Homo sapiens: one gene and its partners. The protein of the gene in region 6 interacts with the protein of the main gene of each other region in a biochemical or structural test. Each region holds a gene or a part of one and is shown on either strand. Other genes may lie near its edges. The genes, in order: OLA1, PICALM, CNBP, TRIP10, EIF2AK2, CDC42 and CDC42EP5.

What was found.
Region 1: the proteins of CDC42 (region 6) and OLA1 form a complex in vitro, tested with the Homo sapiens proteins (one large-scale study listed by BioGRID).
Region 2: the proteins of CDC42 (region 6) and PICALM form a complex in vitro, tested with the Homo sapiens proteins (one large-scale study listed by BioGRID).
Region 3: the proteins of CDC42 (region 6) and CNBP form a complex in vitro, tested with the Homo sapiens proteins (one large-scale study listed by BioGRID).
Region 4: the proteins of CDC42 (region 6) and TRIP10 form a complex in vitro, tested with the Homo sapiens proteins (3 studies listed by BioGRID and IntAct).
Region 5: the proteins of CDC42 (region 6) and EIF2AK2 form a complex in vitro, tested with the Homo sapiens proteins (2 studies listed by BioGRID and IntAct).
Region 7: the proteins of CDC42 (region 6) and CDC42EP5 form a complex in vitro, tested with the Homo sapiens proteins (2 studies listed by BioGRID).

Annotation. Positions count from the first base shown.
Region 1 is NC_000002.12:174,123,033-174,126,532, forward strand, and holds part of OLA1 (obg-like ATPase 1), read right to left. Parts: intron 644-3,500; coding exon 563-643; intron 246-562; coding exon 148-245; intron 1-147. UniProt on the Homo sapiens protein: Hydrolyzes ATP, and can also hydrolyze GTP with lower efficiency. Has lower affinity for GTP.
Region 2 is NC_000011.10:85,999,585-86,003,084, forward strand, and holds part of PICALM (phosphatidylinositol-binding clathrin assembly protein), read right to left. Parts: intron 1,575-3,500; coding exon 1,451-1,574; intron 1,196-1,450; coding exon 1,059-1,195; intron 1-1,058. UniProt on the Homo sapiens protein: Cytoplasmic adapter protein that plays a critical role in clathrin-mediated endocytosis which is important in processes such as internalization of cell receptors, synaptic transmission or removal of apoptotic cells.
Region 3 is NC_000003.12:129,181,097-129,185,049, forward strand, and holds the start of CNBP (CCHC-type zinc finger nucleic acid binding protein), read right to left. Parts: upstream 2,801-3,953; 5' UTR 2,680-2,800; intron 1-2,679. UniProt on the Homo sapiens protein: Single-stranded DNA-binding protein that preferentially binds to the sterol regulatory element (SRE) sequence 5'-GTGCGGTG-3', and thereby mediates transcriptional repression. Has a role as transactivator of the Myc promoter.
Region 4 is NC_000019.10:6,742,680-6,746,179, forward strand, and holds part of TRIP10 (cdc42-interacting protein 4), read left to right. Parts: intron 1-287; coding exon 288-435; intron 436-514; coding exon 515-577; intron 578-814; coding exon 815-919; intron 920-1,028; coding exon 1,029-1,157; intron 1,158-1,874; coding exon 1,875-2,021; intron 2,022-2,120; coding exon 2,121-2,315; intron 2,316-2,955; coding exon of another isoform or gene 2,956-2,976; exon of another isoform or gene 2,977-3,055; intron 3,056-3,349; coding exon 3,350-3,500. UniProt on the Homo sapiens protein: Required for translocation of GLUT4 to the plasma membrane in response to insulin signaling. Required to coordinate membrane tubulation with reorganization of the actin cytoskeleton during endocytosis.
Region 5 is NC_000002.12:37,122,481-37,125,980, forward strand, and holds part of EIF2AK2 (interferon-induced, double-stranded RNA-activated protein kinase), read right to left. Parts: intron 185-3,500; coding exon 26-184; intron 1-25.
Region 6 is NC_000001.11:22,055,709-22,059,208, forward strand, and holds part of CDC42 (cell division control protein 42 homolog isoform 1 precursor), read left to right. Parts: intron 1-3,500. UniProt on the Homo sapiens protein: Plasma membrane-associated small GTPase which cycles between an active GTP-bound and an inactive GDP-bound state. In active state binds to a variety of effector proteins to regulate cellular responses. Involved in epithelial cell polarization processes.
Region 7 is NC_000019.10:54,464,526-54,467,411, reverse strand, and holds the end of CDC42EP5 (cdc42 effector protein 5), read left to right. Parts: intron 1-1,864; coding exon 1,865-2,311; 3' UTR 2,312-2,386; downstream 2,387-2,886. UniProt on the Homo sapiens protein: Probably involved in the organization of the actin cytoskeleton. May act downstream of CDC42 to induce actin filament assembly leading to cell shape changes. Induces pseudopodia formation in fibroblasts. Inhibits MAPK8 independently of CDC42 binding.

The DNA of each region.
Region 1 (3,500 bases), on a different chromosome or scaffold from region 6:
AGCACAGCTTTCTCATCCATTTTAAACTTTTTAATAAGGAGAAAAATATTAAAATTAAACATTGCCGTTAAGTACATATATGTGGGTGTGTGTTTGTGTGTGTACAGAGATGATGCATCTGGGTATATCTGGTGAGGAAAAACTTACCATTTGTTTTTCTTTCTAATGTAGTCTTTTTCAGAAAGATTAACCAAGTAGACCATTGGTTTTGAAGTCAAAAATAAGTGTTTATTCAACACTTCAATCTAAAGTGGGAGATGGAGAAAGAATCCCTTTTAAAAGTTTAGTAAATATGGAGTAAATCACTGAAGAATTTGAAAGTAAACATTCCTTAAAACAAGTAGGCATTTTCATTTTTATAATTCTTCTTTCCAAAAGATTAGTGGTTATGAAATATCATGAGTGGGGGAAAAGAAAAAAATAACAAGCCCAGGAATAAGCAATCACTGACAGAAATAAAAATTTAGATATAATGGTAAGTGTAAAATAACAACAACTCTAATTTGTTCCCTAGCAAATGAAAGCAAAGGCAGTAATAGATGGCATGATATTTACAACTTACCTCTTTGTCATTCCAATCATGATAGAAGCGAACAGGTTTCTTTTGATCTATAACCCAGGATTTTACTTTGCACATTATATCCTACACATGATTGAGAAAAAGGTAAATATATATGAATAACTAAACATTTAGATACTAAATATTAAAAAGTTTTCAAATTTTCAAAATAAAAATAGATTGTTTTAATGAAAGGGGGCTAGGTCACACAAATAATTATTTTCAATATCTCATTTAAAAACCAATTACTAATAAAACATTGTGGCATTAAATTTTTAATGTATAAAATGGACAATATTAGCAAAAATTAGTAACAGCCTGAAAAATGTCAAGACAATTCAATTACATCAAAGACTAATACAAGAGTTACTACCATTTCAATATTACCTAGTGATGCCATATAGAAGACAAACATGCTATTAGAAAATGGAGTGAGGGGATATACTGAAGAAAGACTAAATTATATTTTTCCCCTAAGAAGAAAAACAAACAAGACAAAATTGAGCCTATTATCGATGATCCAGCCTCCAAAATATTAAATCAACTGACCAGATCCCTTTTTATTTTAGATTAATTTTTTGCCAACACCTTCTCCCTGCCCACTTCTCCCGCAGCCGCACCCCCAATACCCCCAACTCCCCCACCCCCCGAACCTGCCAAAGCCTCCATTACACAATGGCAAGAGCCCTGCACTGGTGACCTCCAACCAGCTGCATTCACTTTCAGAACATCTCTCTCTGCTGGAAATCTAAAGGCCTTTTAGTTAGCAAGCTAGTGTGCATTCAGAAGGAGTAACTGCAGGAAGAGCCCAATGTGCTTTGTTTCTCTGGCCTTTCTTCACAGAAAGATTAATCATCTGTGAAATGGAAACGGCAAACAGCAAGTGACACAAACTGAACCCTTCAAGCCTTTCCTCATCAGTTTTGTGGTTCTGAATCTAAAAGCTGCGTGTGGCAAGGTTCTCCTTACAGGCAGGTGTTAATAAAAGGCTCTGGGGTCTGAAAGGTCAAATTTAGCTCTTCCAGAAGAAGTGCATTTGAGAGTCATCTGGGTGTCTGTTGTTGTTGTTACTAAAGATAATTTATGGATATGTTTTAAATATGCATTTCTCAAAATTTATTGTAACACAATTATTAGTAATCAATTTCCTGGATTTTTATCAATGTATTTTACTTTACCATAATCAGTTATTCTTCTTTAAATATCCATTTGTATAAATTATCTCAATATTTAGTATACCTTCCTTCCAAATTTTGCTGTTACCAACAGGAAAAATAAGGAAAAAGCCTTATATCCTTAGATCCTGATTTGAAACCCTCCAGGCAAAGGACTTCCCACAGATTTTAACAAGGAAGGGGCAAGCTGAAAACTTTTAATGAAATCTAACATGTTCGGCTTAAGAATAATCACTTTTACTCTTCTATAACTGAATTTCACTCATAAATGTTTAAAAGTGGCTAATGTAACACCATTTCCTACAAGGAGAAGATCAAAGTGCTATATTACAAATGCATTATGATTAAAAAAGCCCTGTGCAGCCTTGCTATTAACTGTTCTTTAAACCCTAAAAGGCTTCCCATAGATCTCACTTGGCACTGCATATACAACCTTTGACAAGTAATGTAGACCATTTTTATTCATTGCCTAAAATTGTAGGCAATTATGTGCGTCACACTGGCCACCTGCAAATTCTGAATGCCTGCTCTAGTTGTCAGTGCAAAAAACTAATGTCGGAGGGGATTAATCTAGGGGGAGAGAGTCCTCTTTAATGGCTCCAGCAGGTGAAATGGCCCAGCTGGTTACTATGATGAGTGGCCAGAACAGCTTATGTAGAGACACGCAACAAGATTATACAAAAGAAAGAAAAAACAGTCGTACCATCTTATATTTGGTTCCATTAGTTTTTTCAATTAAAGAAAGAAAACAGACAAAAGAAAGCCAAACAAAAAATAGGGGAAGAAATTAAATTTTAATCATATAAAAAGTATAAAATACTTCTGTAACTACAAACATTTTTACAAAACCTCAGAGCCTCAATAAGTGCTGATCACCAGTGAAGGAATTTCAGTATTTCTCTTTCATTTTAAATTAACTGGACCATTATTTCAGATATAGAAATCTTATCACAAAAGCATTTTGGCATTTGCTTTTTCTCACATTACAAATTACATTACAAATTAGAAGCACTCAAAAAATTTTTTGCAGTCAAGTTTTAATTAAATAGAATTCACTTATAATCAAAGTTCTTGAACAGCACAGTATTCCTTAAAGCCACATTCAAATATTTTTAGAGAAATTTATATATTATAACCTAGTTTTTGGACAGTTGAAATAAAAACATTTTGTACTCAGTGCTCTCTTAATTATTCCCACAAAAGATTTAACAGCCAAGAAAAGACAACTTAGATTTACTAAAAGATGTCAGTTTTATTTAAGACAAATCAAAAATAGATTGCTTTTCAGATAAGACTATCTTATATAAATGATCAGTATATGGTATAGTTTCAATGTGCTCTTTTTCTTACATAAAGTAAAAATTCTAATTTTAGCAAAAAATTAAAAGATGTTATATTCTTTATCGGAAAAACTTCTAAACAGATGAAAGAAAACATTTGGGCTTGTTTGGATATAATACTTATTGGTTGATTGAATTTATTTCCTTATGTTCATATATATAAATACATATATAAATAACGATGATTAGAACAATAAAAGGTTCCAGTTAACTGAGCTTGGTTAACTGGAAAAAAAAATTGAATACCCAATGCATTCAGAAGTTGCCTTAGGTTCCATATTTCTTTACTATCATTATATAGAAATGCAGATGTAGGGGTACTAAATTGGGCTGTTTTGGTAACTTTAACAAATCCCTCATTTTCAAAATAAATTCTGTACATTATAGAGATACATAAAAATTCCTGGTCATTTGAACTTTTCGGTT
Region 2 (3,500 bases), on a different chromosome or scaffold from region 6:
AGAACTAAATTCAACAAACACCTACTAAGATTTCAGGGAGCAGGTAGCAACTGAGCATGCATACAGCAAGCAGTTCACGTAGTAAAACTTACACTGAGCTATTAGGCTCAGCTATTAGGAGTCAGTAGGCAGGCAGATGAGCTTTTAAGGGTGAGTTAATAAACAGCAACAACAAAGTGAAAGGAAAAAACTCACCACTCTCTATGGAACATTTAACATGTGCTAATAATGCACTGTGCTAAAACCTAGTCACCTGGGAGCATCTTAAAAACAAAAATTCTTGGGCCCCAGGCCCCACCTACTGAATCAAAACTCTAGGATTGGGACTCAGATATCTGTAGTTTAATAAACTCTCCAAATGCTTCTGATGTTAAAGTTGAGAACCACAGTCTCATCTGAAAACAAGGTTTCTCAAAAAAAGTTAAGAACTAACAGAGCCAGGATTCAAACCAGAATCTGACTTTTAAAACTACTTTAAGCCACTCTGAGGTTCAGAAAATGCCAATTGTTTTACTTTACCTGGCAATATTATATTTCCATGTTAAGTAGCTTAAATTAGACAACAAGATTATTAAAGTTAGTCTGGTAGGCTTCAATACCAAGAAACCTGGCAACTAAACTCTGTCACTGTGTTCCAGATTACAGAGTTTAAAACCAGGAAACAGATATGACAGACGTTTAATATCTAATGAAATGGTATTTTGAAATATATATCATATCCATATGTCAAAGAGCTATAAAGGGTCTTGAACCATTAGATGCCTCATAAATGTGTTTAATCATAATTTTTACACAATGAAAAGTTGGCCCAGAGATAACAGCTATATTCCTATTAGTATAAATCAGTGATTTAACTATCTTCCATTTCGTAAATACGTAAAATATAAACTCATCACTTTATCTTTAGGTATTATACCAATATCACCATTTATCGCCACCTCTTTGTGTGAATAGATTATAAAAGCATAAATAAAAGTAAACCTGAAAAGTTCTGCAAAATTTCTATTAGAAGTCTTTGAACCTACATATTCAAAGGTAACCTTAACTTCTACTCCTACCTGTTAGAAGAACTAGGGGTAGAAAATATGTCAATGGCTGGTGCAGTCATTATCCCTCCTGCTGAGGTGGATACAGGAGAGGCTGCAGTTGTTAAAGAGGTATGAGGTTTCTTTGCAAGTTCTTTTAGGCGCTGTTCCTGTTAAGAAAGGGAACTACCATAAGGATTCCAGAAACCAGATTTCTTTGTACAGCCTCTGAAAAAAGCATTTTCTAATTTGTTCTGATAGCAGATATTCTGTTTTACCTAATTCTATGTCAGGACGAAAAGTTAGACTGAGTTTCAGCCCATTAGGTAGCTATACATTTAAGACTCTAAGTCTGTGCAGAGGCCCCATTTACCTAATGAACACCTGTACTCATTTTTCGAAATAAGGAGAATGCACAAACTTACCTTTAAAGCTTTCAAACGTGCCTGTTCTTCCTCTAATGCTGCCTGCTTTTCCCTTTCATCCACTTTGGTCAGAGATAGACCAGTGCTTGCCAGGGAAGACACTGCATTGGAAAGTGTAGTTGCCCTAGGATAATTGAACAGAGATAATTTGGCTTTTTGCTAAACACTTCACATTACACCCAGGTCATGAAATGGTCTGGCAACCTTGCCATGGATAGGCACTATAATTATAAACTTAACTTCTGGATTCAAATCCAGTACTTCAGATGAAATATTCTACCTAGTGATCTACAGGATTAAAGCAATTAGAAAAATCTTGACTTAATATACACTCACTGCTTTCAGAGTAAGTGTTTGACTTTGGAAAGGGTTCACAACAGAGTGGGGCACATTGCCTCTTCCAAGCCCCAAGAGAGGAAACCAGTGCAATTGGGAAAGAGCCCACATAATCCCACAAAATCCCTGATGGGAAAAAGTGTTGAGTTTATCACAGGGAAAACCCTCTGCTAATTTACAGCCTACGTTTCGGCAGTGCCACAGGAACACCAAAACATGCATACCAGTAACACGTAACGTAAGTCTAGGTATGTTTCACCTATAACAACATCCCCAGAGGACTTCAGGTTCCTTCAAAAGAAGACTGGTTTCAATCTAGTCATCAGGCCATTTGGCATCTTTCTATGTGCTGCCCTTTTGCCAAACCAGAATTTCCTTTTTAATATACATGTACAATGTATCATTTTTCACTGGCAAGGCACCTCCTTTCCCTTTTATCAAAAACGTATCCACACTATAAACCTCAACATTAACTTTCCAAATGTTAACTCTAGGCTAAGTAAAACAAGTGGTAAAGAATTCTAACCTGAAGAACTACCTTGAGCTTTATTAATTTTCCTTTTACCACACACCAAACATCATTAGTTTCTACTCTTAAGCACGTAAAGTGGTAAAAACTACCTTTTAAATTTTATGTAATATTAGTATTATAAATAAGCCAATAAAAAGGTACAATTCAGAAGACAAAGGAAGAATAACATAGTTGTGACAGAAATGCAAGAAAACCAATAAATTTTATGATAAACATTTCAGGTAAATTGGTGCACCTGAACTACGTGGCTCTTTTTTTCGTTATTCTCTCAAATAAATGAGACTTATTGTTTTGACTGCTACTTCGAAAATCTTACTAGAAAATTCAAAGTACAAATCTAGGATTAAAAATGAGTACTAAAATCCAATAACGGCATTTCCCTTTGGAAATTATTTAAATTTTATTACTAAAAGAAAGATCAAAAGTTCTGAAACAACCAGAAAGTCTAAAAAGAACCAAAGGAAGGTTCTCACTATACAAATTCTTTCTTCATGCTGTTTTAAAAAAAGGTTCATAAGAAAACATGAGAATAACTCAAGTAATTTCTTAACCCAATACAAAAATCATGTTACCAGACTGATATGAAATGATTTCTGTTACTTTCAATTTGCTAGGTTAAATGGTCTTAGTCTGAGGAATTAGCTTAAAACATAATAAAGTGATTAAAATATAAAATATCAATAATCAACCCCATGAACTGGCATTAGGCAGAGATGATGCAATTTGATGTCAGATATTCTAGGTTTGAGTCCCAGCATTGCTACTACATACTTCACAGGGCTATTGTGAGGATTGAGCAAATTAATACGAAAGTATCTTGCAATTATAGGCCTGGCACGGTGGTTCATGCCTGTAATCCCAGCACTTTGGGAGGCTGAGGTGTGCAGATCACTTGAGTTCAGGGGTTCGAGACCAGCCTGCTCAACATGGTGAAACCCTGTCTCTACTAAAAATACAAAAATTAGCCGGCCGTGGTGGCATGCATCTGTAGTCCCACCCTTGGGAGGCTGAGGTGGGAGAATCGCTTGAACCCAGGAGGTGGAAGTTGCAAGTGAGTTGAGATTGTGCCACTGCACTCCAGCCTGGGCAATAGAGTGAGACTCTGCCTCGGGGGAAGAAAAAAAAAATGTATCTTATAACTACAAAGCACCACATAAAACAATGCATTAGCATCTTTAGGAG
Region 3 (3,953 bases), on a different chromosome or scaffold from region 6:
GGGCGTGGTGGCACACGCCTGTAATCCCAGCTACTTGGGAGGCTGAGGCAGGAGAATTGCTTGAGCCCGGGAGATGGAGGCTGCTGTGAGCCGAGACTGTGCCACTGCATTCCAGCCTGGCCGACAGAGAAAGACTCTGTCTCAAAAAAAAAAAAAAAAAAAAAAAAAAAGACAAGTAGAATTGTCATAAATCATGTAACAAAACACATTTATACTTTAAAAAAGACATCTCCCTGCCTGTTCCAGATGTTCAAATGCCAGTTTAAGAAAAACCTGGCCAGGCGCGGTGGCTCCTGCCTGTAATCCTAGCACTTTGAGAGGCCGAGGGAGTCGGATCACAAGGTCAGGAGTTCGAGACCAGCCTGGCCAACATGGTGAAACCCCGTCTGTACTAAAATACAAAAACTAGCTGGGTGTGGCGGCGGGCGCCTGTAATCCCAGCTACTTCGGAGGCTGAGGCAGGAGAATCGCTTAATCCGGGAGGCGGAGGTCGCAGTGAGCCGAGATCGCGCCACTGCACTCCAGCTTGGGCGACAGAGTGAGACTCCGTCTCAGAAAAAAAAAAAGAAAAACCCCTGGTCTTCCACTGATTTGGTTCAAAATATTTTACAGACTGCACCATCTGAAATACATTACCTCTCCTGTTACCAATATGAAAAAAAAGAGGACCTTTGGTTCCTCAGAAAAACACAAACTGTTATTTTTTTAAAGAAAAACTTATCAAGAGATGAAATCGGAAAAACTTAAGTCTTTAATTCTGCCCTTGGGAATGTAATAAATTATTCCTTTTATATTCCAATACACAAAGAACTCTTGTAGACAAGAATCAGGCTCAACAAACTAAAAACAGCATGTACCTAGGATCCTGGCAGTTTACAGGTGTTTGATTATCCTTAACCAGAGTAACTCATTAGAAGCATTTAAAACTATTTAGGAGGGGGGAGGGGGAAGCCCAGGAGATAAGTACTATATCTCTTATCTTTTTGAAACCCTCAAAGCTCTACACTCCAGTTATACTGCTTGAACAAACAAATAACATAAAATTGCTAATTTAAATTCGAATGGAAATAGTAACTGGTTACGTTTCACTCCAAAATTGGGTCAAACAATAGGAAAGGGGGAAAAATCTACTTTTAAAAATGTAATTTAAAAGCAAGATGGGGATATTCATTAGACCTCCTTCACTTTGAGAAAGACAAAAAACAAATTCAGTTTTGGCTTATCTCACCTGAGTCCTTCTGAATAATGCCTGAAACACACTAGCTAAAATCACAGACGATTACTGAGCAATGTTCTCTTTTTACAAGACCCCCAAGACCAGAAACAGTCACTTCCTTTGGAAGTGCCCTGTGGCTGAGGCCATATGGTTAACATGTGGGAACAAGCACAAGCCTTACCCATAATAAAATCAACACCTAAACCCAAATGTGGACCATTATGCCATTCTAAAACAGGTTCTCACGATATGGAAAAATCTAGATGGAGGGGAGCTAGTTGAATTTCGTGTCTCGTTTGTAATTACATCTGTTTCATTAATCCAAGAAATGATGCAGACTACCGCCCGCTGCTGTGGTTTTGGAGGTTTGACAAATTCGTGTTTTTTCTGGTAATGGCGCTTTTAAAGGATCCCAGCAACTTAAATAGTGTTAACTCTTGGAATGTGAGCCCCATCAGCCCCTTTTGGAATGGTAATGTAACACAAGCAACTTAGTATTTAAATGACGATAAAAATTCAAGAATCGGAAAACTATCAAGGATAGGGAGTATAAACTCTAAAAGCTCCCAAGTCTTCCAGCAGTCTCGCCACTCCAAACACAAAGGCTTCTTCAGGAACCCTTTGTTGTTGTTTGTTTGTTTGTTTGTTTGTTTTTTTAAGACGGAGTCTCTCTCTGTTGCCCATGCTGGAGTGTAGTGGCGCGATCTCGGCTCACCACAACCTCGGCCTCCGGGGTTCACGCGATTCTCCTGTCCAGCCTCCCGAGCTGCTGGGACTACATGCGCCCGCCACCATGCCCGGCTAATTTTTTATTTTTAGTACAGACCAACTTTCACCATATTGGTCAGGCTGGTCTCGAACTCCTGACCTCGTGATCCGCCCGCCTGGGACTCTCAAAGTGCTGGGATTACAGGCGTGAGCCACCGCGCCCGGCCTAAGAACCCTTTTCTAAGGCCCCCAAAACCCTTGGCACATGGCCCGCCAGGCGCACGACCCCAGCACATGGCCTGCACGACTATACCCACCCCATCCCCCCTTCATCCGCAGCCGGGAGCCTTTCCCCACCACACGGACTCCTTCCAGTGAGTTCCCGCCAAATCCACCCTCGGTCCCTCATTCCGCGACCCTCGAAGCGTCAGGGCCTCGGCCCCAAGGGCGCACGGGCGGGCCTCCTCTGCCCTAAGCCTGCGGCCTGGGGTGCGGCCGTGGCGCCGAAAGACCCGCATGCTCGGCGACCCAGCTTTCCAGGACGAAGAAAGGACAGAAGTGTCGTCCGACAGCGGTGCGCCAGAAACCCGGGTCCGAGGCGGCGGCAGCAGCCGAGCTTCCCGCCTGACGCAGCAGAGGCGCAGGCCAAAGTGCGGCCGCCATCGCCACCTCGCCGCTCCCTACCCTCTCTGTCCGCCACAGACCCGACCCGCACTGCGGCTCCGTCAGCGCCGGGCCCCTCCCCCAGCCCTCACCTTCCGCGTCGGAGCGGGCCCGCAGCGGCGGAGACTCGGACGCAGGCCTGGGGAAGACGGCTCGCAAGGTAGAGGCTGTTTATTTTGAGGGTCCTTGCCTGCGCCACACGCGGGTCTGCACACGGCCCCACATACGCCGCTGCGCACGGCTCTCCTCCGCCTCGCCCACGCGGCCAATCAGCGCGCGGGGTTCGGCAGTCCAATCAGAGCCGCCCGCGGCAGGGCCGCCCACTAGAGCGCGGCGCGGGGCGGGTGTTTCTGCGCGCAGCGTCTTTTCCCGCCGTGCCCCGCGCGCGGCCTTTCACGCCGGGATCCGGGTCCCGGTGCTTCTCGGTTCATTCCCAGCTGGGTCCGGGCCCGGCCAGACTGGGTGGAAATCTGGCTGACCTTGGTGGTCTGTCTTGGCCAGCTGGAGCAAAGGGATGCCAGGGGACGGGTCTCGGTGCAGTGACTGCCATTAGCTTGGGGCCGCAGAAAGTTTCTCCCCTTTCTCGGGCTCCTGCCAGGCCCTTGGCTTTCAGAGCCAGGCCCGATTTCTAGATAACATTTAAGTTTGCAGAAAAGGGGATGCCAAGTCACGGTGGTCACGGCTGTGGGATGCAGCCTCTGAGATTTGTATTAATTTTTGTGAGCCGGGGAAAGGCCTTGCTGCTTTCTCCGCCAGGACTGATGTGTCTTCCCAAGATGAAAGTGCCTGGTAAGGGCGAGGGGCCTCCCTGGGAAGGTCATGAGCATGTAAGGTAATGGGGCCTAGACTGTGACTTTTGGCACGTTTATGAGTGACATCCCCCGGGAGGGCAAGGATAACCATTTGACCTGGTCTGTCATATTCAGGAATAGACTTCAGTTTAGTTGTGGTATTTTCTCCAAAAGAGATTTGTGTATATAGCCCTAGATAGTCTTGTCAAGATTAAACCCAATTTAAACTGTTAACTATAAAATATTTTAGAATTTTGTCTCATTCTAGAATGGCTTTATTCGAAACAAAAAAAAAGGAAGAGTCCCAAGTTTCGTCTCAGTGAAACCTGCCAGTTCAACACTATGATTTATTTTTCTTTTTTTCTTTAATTTTTTTTTTTTTTAAGAGTAGGGTCTTGCTCTGTCGCTGGGTTTACAGGCATAAGCCACCAATCCCAAATCCCGGGGCTATGATTTTTGAAATCATGTTCGTGAGAAGGCAGAGCACATGTGTTGAGAGTCAGACTTTAAACCTGGGTTCAAATCATTAGTGCTTAATCATTGTAAAGCAGTTAGGAGGTTGCGTTCAACATAGC
Region 4 (3,500 bases), on a different chromosome or scaffold from region 6:
CCTGAGGTGGGAGGATCACTTGAGCCCAGGAGTTTGAGGCTGCAGTGAGACGCAATCATGCCGCTGCACTGCAGCCTGGGTGACAGCAAGACCCTGTCTCAAAAAAAAAAAAAAAAAAAATCTACTCAAGGGTTGGGGTTAAGGAATATGGACCAGAATTTGTCATCGCTTCAGGGATTACATTCTTGGGGCTTAACCCTTTTCCACCTGGAGGTGCGTCCTGGGGCATCAGCCTGCTCGGGAGGAGGGGCCTGACTCCCTGTTCCCCGATTCTCATCCAACCCCAGATTCAGCCAGCAACAGTCCTTCGTACAGATTCTCCAGGAGGTGAATGACTTTGCAGGCCAGCGGGAGCTGGTGGCTGAGAACCTCAGTGTCCGTGTATGTCTTGAGCTGACCAAGTACTCACAAGAGATGAAACAGGAGAGGAAGATGGTGAGGAGCCCCCCGATTCAGGTTTTACAAAGGGCTTCTGCTGGAACCCTGGCGAGCCTTATCACTCTTCTTTCTGTAGCACTTCCAAGAAGGGCGGCGGGCCCAGCAGCAGCTGGAAAATGGCTTTAAACAGCTGGAGAATGTGAGTTTGCAGAGGTAGCAGTGACTGTGGCCCGGAGGCATGGGGGCAGGGTTGCGGATCCGGAGTCAGGGAGCTGCCCTCTTTGTCAGACCTGGACCTTCCCTCCCCCATAGGCTTCCAGTACTCCCTTGACCCCTACTTACTGGATGACATCCCAATAATCCCTGAAACCTTGGTTTCCCACCCTGCTGTCTTTGGGATGGTGGCTCCCTCACTCCGGTTCTGTCCCCTACACAGAGTAAGCGTAAATTTGAGCGGGACTGCCGGGAGGCAGAGAAGGCAGCCCAGACTGCTGAACGGCTAGACCAGGATATCAACGCCACCAAGGCTGATGTGGAGAAGGTGTGTGTGGCGGGGGCGGGGGGGGGGTGCGGGGTCTGGGACAAGCTTGGGGAGTCCGAGTGGGACGTGATCGGAACCTGGCAGTACCTTCCACCTCTGCATTCTTCAGGCCAAGCAGCAAGCCCACCTTCGGAGTCACATGGCCGAAGAAAGCAAAAACGAATATGCGGCTCAACTGCAGCGCTTCAACCGAGACCAAGCCCACTTCTATTTTTCACAGATGCCCCAGATATTCGATGTGAGTGCTCCCAGTTCTCAGACCTACCTTCCCGAAAGCCTCCAAATGTTAGCCAACTCCTACGCATTCATCAAAACCCCAGCTGCAATGTCCCAGTCCCTAGATTGAAAGGGAATCAGAAACCTATAGTAACAGTGAGCTGTGCTTTTAGTCAGCTGTTCTTCCTGCTGGGCATGCCTTTTACTTGTTTGTTTATTTACTTCTATAGAGAGATGGGGCCTGGCTCTGTCACCCGGGCAGGAGTGCAGTGGCATAATCACAGCTCACTGCAGCCTGGAACCCCTGTGCTCAAGTGACCTTTCTTTCTTTTTGAAATTCCTACTTATTCTTCTAAGCTCCACCTCTAACAACCCCTCTGAAAGGTCTCGAATTTCCCCTCTCCTGTTTCAATCTAGCGCTCCACTCTCTGTCCCATCCGTGGCCCTGGGAGTATCAGGGCTGGTTCTGCTTTTTCTTCAAATCCCTGTTCCCTTGTCTCCTCCTTTGAGAAGCCTTTGCTGACCCCCTAGGCACGCGTCCCCCTCTGAGATCCCCCTGGCCCTGTGTCTCTTCCCCAACCACAGTGGGCTGGAGTCTCTCTTCCCGACTCTGTCTTCCCCTCCAGACTGGCTTGGGGCTGGGGCCAGCGTGGAGCGCGATCATATTTGCAGAGTGAATCACTGTGCTTCTAGTCCCTCTGTTAGCACCCCTGAGCCACCCTTGTCCCTGTCCTTACAGAAGCTCCAAGACATGGATGAACGCAGGGCCACCCGCCTGGGTGCCGGGTATGGGCTCCTGTCGGAGGCCGAGCTGGAGGTGGTGCCCATAATAGCCAAGTGCTTGGAGGGCATGAAGGTGGCTGCAAATGCTGTGGATCCCAAGAACGTGGGTGCCTGGTCTGGGTCCACTGGGCTACGGGAAGGGCAGAGGGAGGTACCCATAGGCTAGGCACTCGACTGCTCATCCACTGTCCCCCTCCCCCAGGACTCCCACGTCCTTATAGAGCTGCACAAGTCAGGTTTTGCCCGCCCGGGCGACGTGGAATTCGAGGACTTCAGCCAGCCCATGAACCGTGCACCCTCCGACAGCAGTCTGGGCACCCCCTCGGATGGACGGCCTGAACTCCGAGGCCCGGGTCGCAGCCGCACCAAGCGCTGGCCTTTTGGCAAGAAGAACAAGGTGGGGGCCGGGACCCTTGGGATGGTGGGGGAGAAGGACAGTGAAGTGGGGACAGTGGGGCCCCTATTGAGTCAGCCCCAGCCGCCTGAACGCCGAGTCTCGGGCAGGAATTTTCCTCTTGGCTGCCAGCCCGGACTGGAGGGAAGGAAGGCGGCCGATTGGCCTGGGAGTCCCCCGAGGCGAAGGCGGGGGCAGGGTGGGGAGGTGGGGAGGTCCGTGGCGTTTGTCTGCTGCTTCTCGGGATGCTGGGAGAAAACCTGCTGGTGGAATTCAGGGCTGGCCTGAGGGCTGGTGACACCATCCCTGGGGACTCCCCGAGTTTCTCTCTCCATCCTGCTGATGGGACTCTGGGAGCCGCCCTGCATGTCTTGCTTTCTTGGGTTTTTGGATTTTAATATACCTTAGCACCCTTGGTTTATACCTTTGATTTATACTTTGGGTCCCTCTTCACTTACACTCTCATACCTCTCCTTGACTTAACACCTGTGATCCCCGAGCTTAAACTTCTGATGCCCCTAACCCCTCTCATTTTCCTGCCTTCCACTCCCTCTCGGCTTGTGGTTTTATTTTTGTTTATTTATTTTTGTCCTCTGTGGCCTCTTACCTGTCTGAGACCTTGATTCCTGCATGCGTCTTCTAGACTGTCAGCCCAGAAAGCTAAGTGGACAGAGAGACATGGGCCTCCCTGCCTCCTGGACCCATGCTTGCTCCCGGACATAACATTCCAGAGACCTAGGAGATACCGGGGGAGTGAGAGTTCTGGCTTTCGGGCTTACAGTTCAACATCCTCCCCGCCACCTTCCAGATTTTTTTGTGTCGCTCCTGCATGCGTTTTCTCTGTGTGGTTGTGCATCTTGAGTTGTGGTTTTCTTACCGTTTTTTTTCTTTCTCCATTTTGTTTTTCCTTTTTCCTTTTTTTGCGTCCATCCGTCCATCCGTGCGTCCATCCCTCCGTCCATTCGTCCTCACTCTCTACATCCTCCTATGCCCCCCCACCCCTTCAACCTATCCCCCTCCCCGGCCCCCGCCGGTAGCCTCGCCCCCCACCCCTCTCCCCCCTGGGGGGCCCCGTACCCTCGGCATTGCCTAACGGACCCCCGTCCCCCCGCTCCGGCCGTGACCCCTTGGCCATACTGAGCGAGATCAGTAAGTCGGTCAAACCGAGGCTAGCATCCTTCCGCAGCC
Region 5 (3,500 bases), on a different chromosome or scaffold from region 6:
GCTATGAGAATTTATTTTTAGTTACCTTGAACTATTTTTGCTGTTCTCAGGATCATAATCACTGCTCTCAAGAGAATCATCACTGGTCTCAGGATCATAATCAAATCCATCCCAACAGCCATTGTAGTGAACAATATTTACATGATCAAGTTTTGCCAATGCTTTTACTTCACGCTCCGCCTTCCTAGTTAAAAGGAACAGGGAACATGGCAGTGTCAGTGTACATCCCTCATAACAACCACAAAACACCTCATGTAATAGACAACTGTCTACATTCCCTTATTAAACCATTGCTGTGGTTCTCACATAGTTTTAGAATGGAAGCCAGGACATTCAAAAGGAAAAAGTGAACATACTGAAAAAAAACATAGCAGTTCTCACTCTCAAGATAAAATAAAAGGCAGTGGCCGGGCGCGGTGGCTCAGGCCTGTAATCCCAGCACTTTGGGAGGCGAAGGTGGGCGGATCACGAGGTCAGGAGTTCAAGACCAGCCTGACCAACATGGTGAAACCCCATCTCTACTAAAAATACAAAAAATTTAGCTGGGCACAGTGGCGCATGTCTGTAATCCCAGCTACTTGGGAGGCTGAGGCAGGAGAATCGCTTGAATCCAGGAGGCGGAGGTTGCAGTGAGCCAAGATTGCACCACTGCACTCCAGCCTGGGCAAAAGAGCAAGACTCTGTCTCAAAAAATAAATAAATAAAAGGCAGCGACTTAATGCCAAGCATCAGACAATTTAAAAATCATCTGTAGTACTCTTGAAATGCCAGTGATGTCATTTTAATTAATTTATTTATTTTATTGAGACAGAGTCTTGCTCTGTCACCCAGGTTGGAGTGCAGTGGCACAATCTTGGCTCATTGCAGCCTCAACCTTCTAGCCTCAAACAATTCTCCCACCTCAGTCTCCTGAGTAGCTGGGACCACAGGAGCACACCACCACACCCATCTAATTTTTTCTATTTTCTGTAGAGATGGGGTTTTGCCACGCTGCCCATGCTGGTCTCAAACTCCTGGGATCTAGCAATCCACCTGCCTCAGCCTCCCAAAGTGCTGGGATTGCAAGCATGAGCCAATGGACCCAGCCAGTGCAATTTTTCATAGCTAAATCATACATTATGTTTTGCTTAGATTTGTGTTAAAATCTTTGTATTTCACAAGCAAACCACATTTAGGCAGCAAGGCTAGGTAACCCAGGCAGTGTGAAGTACCTAATTCAGGATTTTCAATGTGTGGCAAATATACACAAAGAGGATAACTTATGCAGAGAAGGTGAAATGGTGGAAGGCTTTACAGGGATGTGTTGCCAAGACCTAAGAAAATTCCATGCTAAGTGCAGTAAATAAATTGGAGATTTCAAAGATGAGGAAGAATAATCATTTTACAATTTTATTTTTTAATGCAAGAAGTTTTAAAGTATATGACACAAATTTGCAAAAATAAAAAAAATTACTGATACTTTGACAATCCTAAAATAATGTTATTTTAGATTCTTCCTTTTTTTTTTGAGACAGGGTCTCACTCTGTCACCCAGGCTGGAGTGCAGTGGCAATGTTGGCTCACTGCAACCTCCACCCCTAGGGCTCAAGCGATCCTCCTACCTCAGCCTCCCTAGTAGCTAGGACCACAGGCACACACCACCACACTTGGCTAGTTTTTATATTTTTTGTAGAGACAGGGTTTCTCCATGTTGCCCAGGTTGGTCTCGCACTCCTGACCTCAAGTGATCCACCAGCCTTGGCCTCTCAAAGTGGTAGGATTACAGGCCTGAGCCACTGCACCCAGCCAGTCATTTTTTTTGAGAAGAGTCTTGCTTTGTCGCCCAGGCTGGAGTGCAATGGCGCGATCTTGGCTCACTGCAACCTCCGCCTCCTGGGTTCAAGCGATTCTCCTGCCTCAGCCTCCCAAGTAGCTGGGACTACAGGCGTACGCTGCCATGCCCAGCTAATTTTTGTATTTTTAGTAGAGACAGAGTTTCACCATGTTGGCCAGATGGCCTCAGTCTCTTGACCTCGTGATCTGCCTGTCTTGGCCTCCCAAAGTGCTGGGATTACAGGCGTGAGCCACCATGCCTGGCCCAGCCAGTCATTTTTAATGGCTGCAAAACAGCCATCGATCAGGGGACAGAACAAAATATATATACTCATTTCTTTACTGCTGGATATTTTGTTTGTTCTAACTTTTTACTGTTAATGAATGACACTGTGATTTATATCTTCTTGGATATAAATCCATAATTTGAATAACATTCTTTTTTTTTTTTTGGAGATAGGGTCTCACTCTGTCACCCAGGCTGTAGTGCAGTGGTGTGACCATGGCTCACTGCAGCCTCCACCTACTGGGCTCAAATGGTCCTCCCACCTCAGCTTCTGAAGTAGCTGAGACTACAGGCGTGGCTACCACACCGGCCTAATTACTGTATTTTTTGTAGAGGTGGAGTTTTGCCATGTTGCCCCAGGCTAGTCTCAAACTCCTGGGCTCAAGTGATCCACTCACCTCAGCCTCCCTAAATAGTATTCTTTTTATTATTTTTATTTTTATTTTTTTTTGAGAGGGAGTTTCGCTTTTGTTGCCCAGGCTGGAGTGCAATGGCATGATCTGGGCTCACCACAAGCTCCGCCTCCCGGGTTCAAGCAATTCTTCTGACTCAGCCTCTCGAGAAGCTGAGATTACAGGCATGCGCCATCACACCCAGCTAATTTTGTATTTTCAGTAGAGAGGGGTTTCTCCATGTTGGTGAGGCTGGTCTCGAACTCCTGACCTCAGGTGATCCGCCTGCCACGGCCTCCCAAAGTGCTGGGATTACAGGCGTGAGCCACCACACCCAGTCCCTAAATAATATTCTTAGAACTCATCCCCTAGAATGACAAATTACGGGGTAGGGCCTATTTGGCCTCCCCTTGAATCTAAGCTGGCTTCAGTGACTTGTTTAACCAATATAACTTGATGGTAGTGACGTTCTGGAACTCCTCAGATTAGGTCAAAAGAAGCCTTGCCACTCACTCCTGATCTTTTGGATGACTTGTTCTGGGGACAATCCTTCTTGAAACCCAGCCACCAAGTTGTAAGAAGCCCAATCCCCATAGGGAGGCCATGTGGAGGTATTCTGATTGACAGTCCCAGCTGAACTTCCAGCCCACAGCCGGTGTCAACTGCTAGCCAGCTTGGATATCCAGCCTAAGATAGGCTGTAGTCAAGGTTTCAGATGACTACTGACTGCAAATCCCTCTGAGACCCCAAGTGAGAATTGTCCAGATGAGCACAATCAACCCATGGAACCATTAGAGACAACAATAAATTGCTGTTTTTAAGCACTGCATTTTGGAGCAGTGCCTTATACAATAACAGACAACCAGAGAACAATTACCATCTAGCTTTTATCTTAGACAAAATCACTTCACATCTCTGGATCTTAGTTTCCTCATCTATAAAATAAGAAGGTAAGACTAGAACATCTCAAAGATCACCTATTTTGTGGGTAATGATAGGTTCTATCTGGT
Region 6 (3,500 bases):
GAATGCCTGAACTCAAGCTATTTGCTCCTGTTGGCCTCTGAAAGTGCTGGGATATAGGCATGAGCTGCTGTGCCGCTGACAGGCTTTCTTGGAAGTAAAAGACTAGTTGTGCTTTTATTTATAGATGTATTTTAAATGCACTTCTCTATTGTTTTAGAGTTTTTTTTTTTTTTTTTTTGAGAGGATGAGAAACAATGAGCACCTTAGGCTACAGGGCTTCCTTTGAAGGGGAGAGAGGGTTAAATATTGTGTTAACATATCTTCCATGAAAATATCTCTCTGTATTAAAAGGCTTCATTCTGGAATTTTATGGTAATGCCTTATTCAGTGTTCTCTTCCACATAGATTTCCTCATTAGATTGTAAGTTCTGTGAGGGCAGGGCTTTGGCCTGGCATGGTCACCCCATTGCTAATGCCTAGAATACTGCCATACATACAGTAGGTTTTAAGAAATATTTTTTAAGTGAATGAATTTGATGATGTCTGAGGGTTAACGTTTTCCCTAATATTCCATGGGCCTTTTTGCTGTGTTTCCTGAGACAGCTTTTGTGCTTGGTCAGCCATATCTTTATTTGGGCTCATTGAAGTAGTGATTACTAATCTACTCTTGCTTGACTTTTTCCATCTGTTTAGGTCAGTATCTTCTGCAGCTGCACTGTCTGGACAATTTACCATCACTTAGAAAATCTGTGATGACTACTAGTTCTCTTACTCTCCTAAAAATTATTCACTTAATGTTTGTTTCCTTATCTTCCTTTATTTCTTTGTTTGCAAATAACTTTTACCGCTTGTTCACTACTGTATCAGATTCCTGGTCATGTTATGCTTTGTGTCTTACTAGTTTCTACTTTTAGTTTCTCATACCTTCAGTCCAAAATATTTTTACTAAAGCAATTTTCATTACTTGCCATTTCAGCTACCTCTGCTGCTGCTGCTGCTATTTTAAGTCCTGAATGTCAAAACTCTTCTGGGACATTGATCTCAAACTGCTTATTCCGTGAAGTGAAACCAGGCTTTCTGCCACCAATGTGGCGTCCCTTTTTGCAATTTTAGAAAAATATTTTTTAAATCAAAGATTTGGCATTAGCCATTATACTAAAGTCCAGAACAATTTCTAATAGAGCAGAAAACTATATTGTTCAGCCATGGTATTCACTAAGCACTGGTGCTCTATCACCTTAAGACAAAGTCTGATTTAGGCTCTGTTACTGTTGTTCTGTAATGCTTTACACTTTAACCTTGCATCCTTTTCTGTAAAATTAAGCCATTGCCATTTGCCATTTCAATTCTGCTGTGTGTTCTTGATTGGTATATTGCTACTATAATGATTAAAAGCATAGACTCTGGAACCAGACTGCCTGGGTTCAGATCCTGGTTCTGCCACTTATTAGGTATGTGCAGTCTAAGTAACGTCTTTGTGACTCAGGTTTACTTCCTCTAAAATAGGGGTAGCAGTAGTGCTTACCTAACAGGGCTGCAGTGTTAGGAAGATTGAATTAATATATATGAAGTGTTTAGGACTGTTCACTGGCACATAGTGAGTGCTGTATAGATTTTTGCTCTTGGCACAACTGTGAGGACCCTTCCCCGCCATCTTTGAGAAGCTGTGTTTCTCTCAAACATAAACATTTTAATAACCATCCTTCTCCCGGACTAATCTGATGAATCCAAAAACATTTCTTTTTTCTTTTTTGAGATGGAGTTTTGCTCTTGTTGCCCAGGCTGGAGTGCAATGGCGCGATCTCGGCTCACCGCAACCTCCGCCTCCTGGATTCAAGTAATTTTCCTGCCTCGGCCTCTTGAGTAGCTGGGATTGCAGGCATGCGTCAGCGCCCCTGGCTAATTTTGTATTTTTCGTAGAGATGGGGTTTCTCTATGTTGGTCAGGCTGGTCTCCAACTCCTGACCTCAGGTGATCCGCCCGTCTCGGCCTCTCAAAGTACTGGGATTACAGGCATAAGCCACTATGTCTAGCCCAAAAACATTTCTAAATGAAGTGGAGATTGCTTTACCTTTTTTTTTTCTTTTTTTTTTGAGACAGAGTCTCGCTCTGTCACCCAGGCTGGAGTGCAGTGGCATGATCTTGGCTCACTGCAACCTCTGCCTCCCGGGTTCAAGTGATTCTCCTGCTTCGGCCTCCTGAGTAGCTGGGATTACAGGTGTCCGCCACCACACCCGGGTAATTTTCGTATTTTTAGTAGAGGTGGGGGGGTTTCACCATGTTGGTCAGGCTGGTCTGTAACTCCTGACCTCACGTGATCTGCCTGCCTCGGCCTCCCAAAGTGCTGGAATTAACAGGCGTGAGCCGCTGCATTCCGGCCTCCTTTACATTTTTATCCGTTACCTTTACCGTTGTCATAGAAGCAAGGGTGTCAGGCCTCAGGTATGCAGTATAGTCTGTGGACCCATCAGCATAAGTGTCACCTGGGAGCTCATTAGAACTATCAGGATTCATCCCAGTCTTACTGACCCAGAATCTTATTTTAATAAGATCCCCACATGATTTTTATGTGTATTAAGGCTTGAAGCACCCTCTTCAGGACTGCTAGAGTGATGTCTCAAATTTCGGAAACAATGTGAATGCTTTATTTCATTTTATTTTCCTATGGAAGCATAACCTGGTTTATTTTAGGCAGTGTACCACAATTTATTGCAAGGATCATAATCTGAAAATGAATCTGAAGCATATTTAGTTTTTAAAGGAATTGTTGCTTCCTGCCTATTACGTAGAATTGCCTCATGTCTGCCCATTATCAGGAACTAATGTGTTATTTAAAGTTTTTTTTTTTTTTGAGATGGAGTTTTGCCCTTGTTGCCCAGGCTGGAGTGCAATGGCATGATCTCCACTCACTGCAACCTCCACCTCCCGGGTTCAAGTGATTCTCCTGCCTCAACCTCCCGAGTAGCTGGGATTACAGGCATGTGCCAGCATGCCTGGCTGATCTTGTATTTTTAGTAGAGATGGGGTTTCTCCATGTTGGGAGTTTCTCCATGCTGGTCAGGCTGGTCTCAAACTCCCGACCTCAGGTGATCCACCCACCTTGGCCTCCCATAGTGCTGGGATTACAGGCGTGAACCACCGCACCCAGCCGAATTACGTATTTTTTAATTTTATTTTTATTTTTTAGAGATAGAGTCTTGCTATGTCACCAGGCTGCAGTGCGTGGTGTGATTATAGCTCACTGTAACCTTGAACTCCTGGGCTTAAAGGATCCTCCAACCTCAGCCTCCCAAGTAGCTGGGATTGCAGGCACGCACCACCACACTTGGCTAATTGTAAATATATATATATATTTTTGTAGAGAATGGGGCCTTTTTATGTTGCCCAGGTTGTTCTTGAACTCCTGGCCTCAAGTGACCTCCCACCTTGGCCTCCCAGAGCTGTGGGATTACAGTTGTGAGCCTCTGCACCGGGCCTTAATTTTTTTTTTTTTTGAGACGGAGTTTTGCTCTTGTTGCCCAGGCTGGAGTGCAATGGCGCAATCTCGGCTCACCGCAACC
Region 7 (2,886 bases), on a different chromosome or scaffold from region 6:
GCGCGATCTCAGCTCACCACAACCTCTGCCTCCCAAGTTCAAGCGATTCTCCTGCCTCAGCCTCTCAAGTAGCTGGGATTACAGGCATGCACCACCACAACCAGCTAATTTTGTATTTTTTTTTTAGTAGAGATGGAGTTTCACCATGTTGGTCAGGCTGGTCTCAAAGTCCTGACCTCAGGTGATCCACCCGCTTCAGCCTCCAAAAGTGCTGGGATTACAGGTGTGAGCCACCATGCCTGGCTAGGGAATTTATATTATTATTTTAGAAAACATAAGACATCATATTGTTAGGTTGTAGTCTCAAGATCAGGTACAGTTGGCCAGGCGTGGTGGCTCATGCCTGTAATCCCAGCACTTCGGGAGGCCGAGGCGGGCAGATCACGAGGTCAGGAGTTCAAGACCAGCCTGACCAACATGGTGAAACCCTGTCTCTACTAAAAATACAAAAATTAGCGTCTCAAAAAAAAAAAAAAAAGATCAGGTACAGTTGCCCCTTGGTAGCAGTGATGGGACTGGTTCTGGGACCCCTATGGATACCCAAATATGCAGATGTTTAAGTCTCTTATATAAATGCCCTAGTATTTGCATATAACCTATGTACATCCTCTCCTACACTTTAAATCATCTCTAGATTACTTATAATGCATAATACAATGTAAATGCTTTGCAAATAATTGTTATATTGTTTGAAACTTGTACTCATTTTTTATTACTGTATTTTTTCCCCAGTATTTTTTATCAGCAGTTGATTGAATCTGCTGATGCGGAACCCACAGATACCAAGGACTGTAATTCAAATCATAAAATGCACCCTAGGCAAAGCCCACCTGGGCCTCTTCCTCGTGTGCGTGGTGGGCTCTAGGCAGGATCTGCTTTGCTTAATGGACAGAGTCAGCCCTGTCTTCAGAACAGGAGCCTGGGAATTTCCATTTTTGACAAGCTGGAGTTTTCTTTTTCTTTTTATTGAGACAGGGTTTCACTCCTGTTGCCCAGGCTGGAGTGCAGTGGCCAATACAGTGACACGATCTCGGCTCCCTGCAACCTCCGCCTCCGGGGTTCAAGCGATTCTCCTACTTTAGCTGGGATTACAGGCATGCGCCACCATGCCCCGCTAATTTTTGCATTTTTTATAGAGATGGGGTTTCACCATGTTGCTCAGGCTGGTCTCGAACTCCTGGCCTCAAGCGATCCGCCCGCCTCGGCCTCCCAAGGTGCTGGGATTACAGGAGTGAGCCACCGCACCCGGGCCAACAAGCTGGAGTTTTCTATCAGTCAAGTCTGGGAAGCACTCTGAAGGGTTTGTGAAATATTTGTTACTTGACCTCTAGGAAGGCTCAAGTATTCGCTCTCAGGAGGATCGGCATAGCATGGTGTTCATAGGCATTCTGGAGTCAGGTTAGATCCAAATGTGAGCTCAGCAGCTGTGCCCATGGGACCTCCTGGAGTCTCATCTTACCCCATCTGTGAAACGGGAGGCCGGGCGCGGTGGCTCACGCCTGTTATCCCAGCATTTTGGGAGACTGAGGCGGGTTGATCACCTGAGGTCAGGAGTTCAAGACCAGCCTGGCCAACATTGTGAAACCCCGTCTCTACAAAAATACAAAAATTGGCTGGGTATGGTGGCGGGTGCCTGTAATCCCAGCTACTCGGGAGACTGAGGAGGAAGAATCGCCTGAACCCGGGAGGCGGAGGTTGCGGTGAGCCGGGATGGCGCCATTGAACTCCAGCATGGGCGAGACTCCGTCTCAAAAACAAAAATCAAAAAACAAAAAACGGGAACCGTCCCCCATCGTCCTTTGAGCAGTCGCGTGGCTGCGAGCCCCGGGCTGGGGCCGCGCTGACCCTCCCGTGCCCCTCGCAGATGCCCGTGCTGAAGCAGCTGGGCCCCGCGCAGCCCAAGAAGCGGCCTGATCGCGGCGCCCTGTCCATCTCCGCGCCGCTCGGCGACTTCCGGCACACGCTGCACGTGGGGCGCGGCGGCGACGCCTTCGGGGACACCTCGTTCCTGAGCCGCCACGGCGGCGGGCCGCCCCCCGAGCCCCGGGCGCCCCCCGCGGGGGCCCCGCGCTCCCCGCCGCCGCCCGCCGTCCCGCAGTCCGCAGCGCCCTCGCCTGCCGACCCGCTGCTGTCCTTCCACCTGGATCTGGGGCCCTCCATGCTGGACGCGGTGCTGGGCGTCATGGACGCGGCGCGCCCGGAGGCGGCTGCCGCCAAGCCCGACGCGGAACCCCGCCCCGGGACGCAGCCCCCCCAGGCCCGCTGCCGCCCCAACGCGGACCTCGAGCTGAACGACGTCATCGGCCTCTAGGTTCCCTCATTCCCCGCGCCCTTCCCGCCCGGCACCCCACTTCTGTATACATAAACGGCCAAGGTGTGTGCCCGGGCTCTGACTTTTCACTTTGCACGTGGAAAGGGATGAATGATAGGGTCCTGGCGCCTCTGAGAGCCGGATGTGTCACCCGGAGGCCTGGTCCGGGTCCGATGATTGCCCTGGGGTGGGGGTGCGGCTCCTTTAAGAGAGCCCGAGGGCGTGGCCAGGCGGTGCCCCTTGCAGAGGCGGCGGCTCCCGCAGTCCCATTCGTCAAATACTGTGCGCCACCGCCGGCCGGACGTGGTCCTGGGGCCGGGCCAGACTCAGCCACCGCGGGGCCAGCCGAGGCGGGGCTGCAGAGTGCTGCAGCCCCAGGAGTCTTTCTGGCCCTGAACGCCTCAGGTGGACTCCGACCCGGCGGAGCCGCCGTTTACTCTGGGAGCGGCTGCAGAGGGAAGTGTCTGAGAACACTTTTAGAGCAGTAGGGGCCTGGTCTCCGTGGGGGAAGGGTCCGCAGGCATCTTGGTTCTTTAAGGCCCCCGAGGGATGGGGCCGAACATGCAAATGATTTG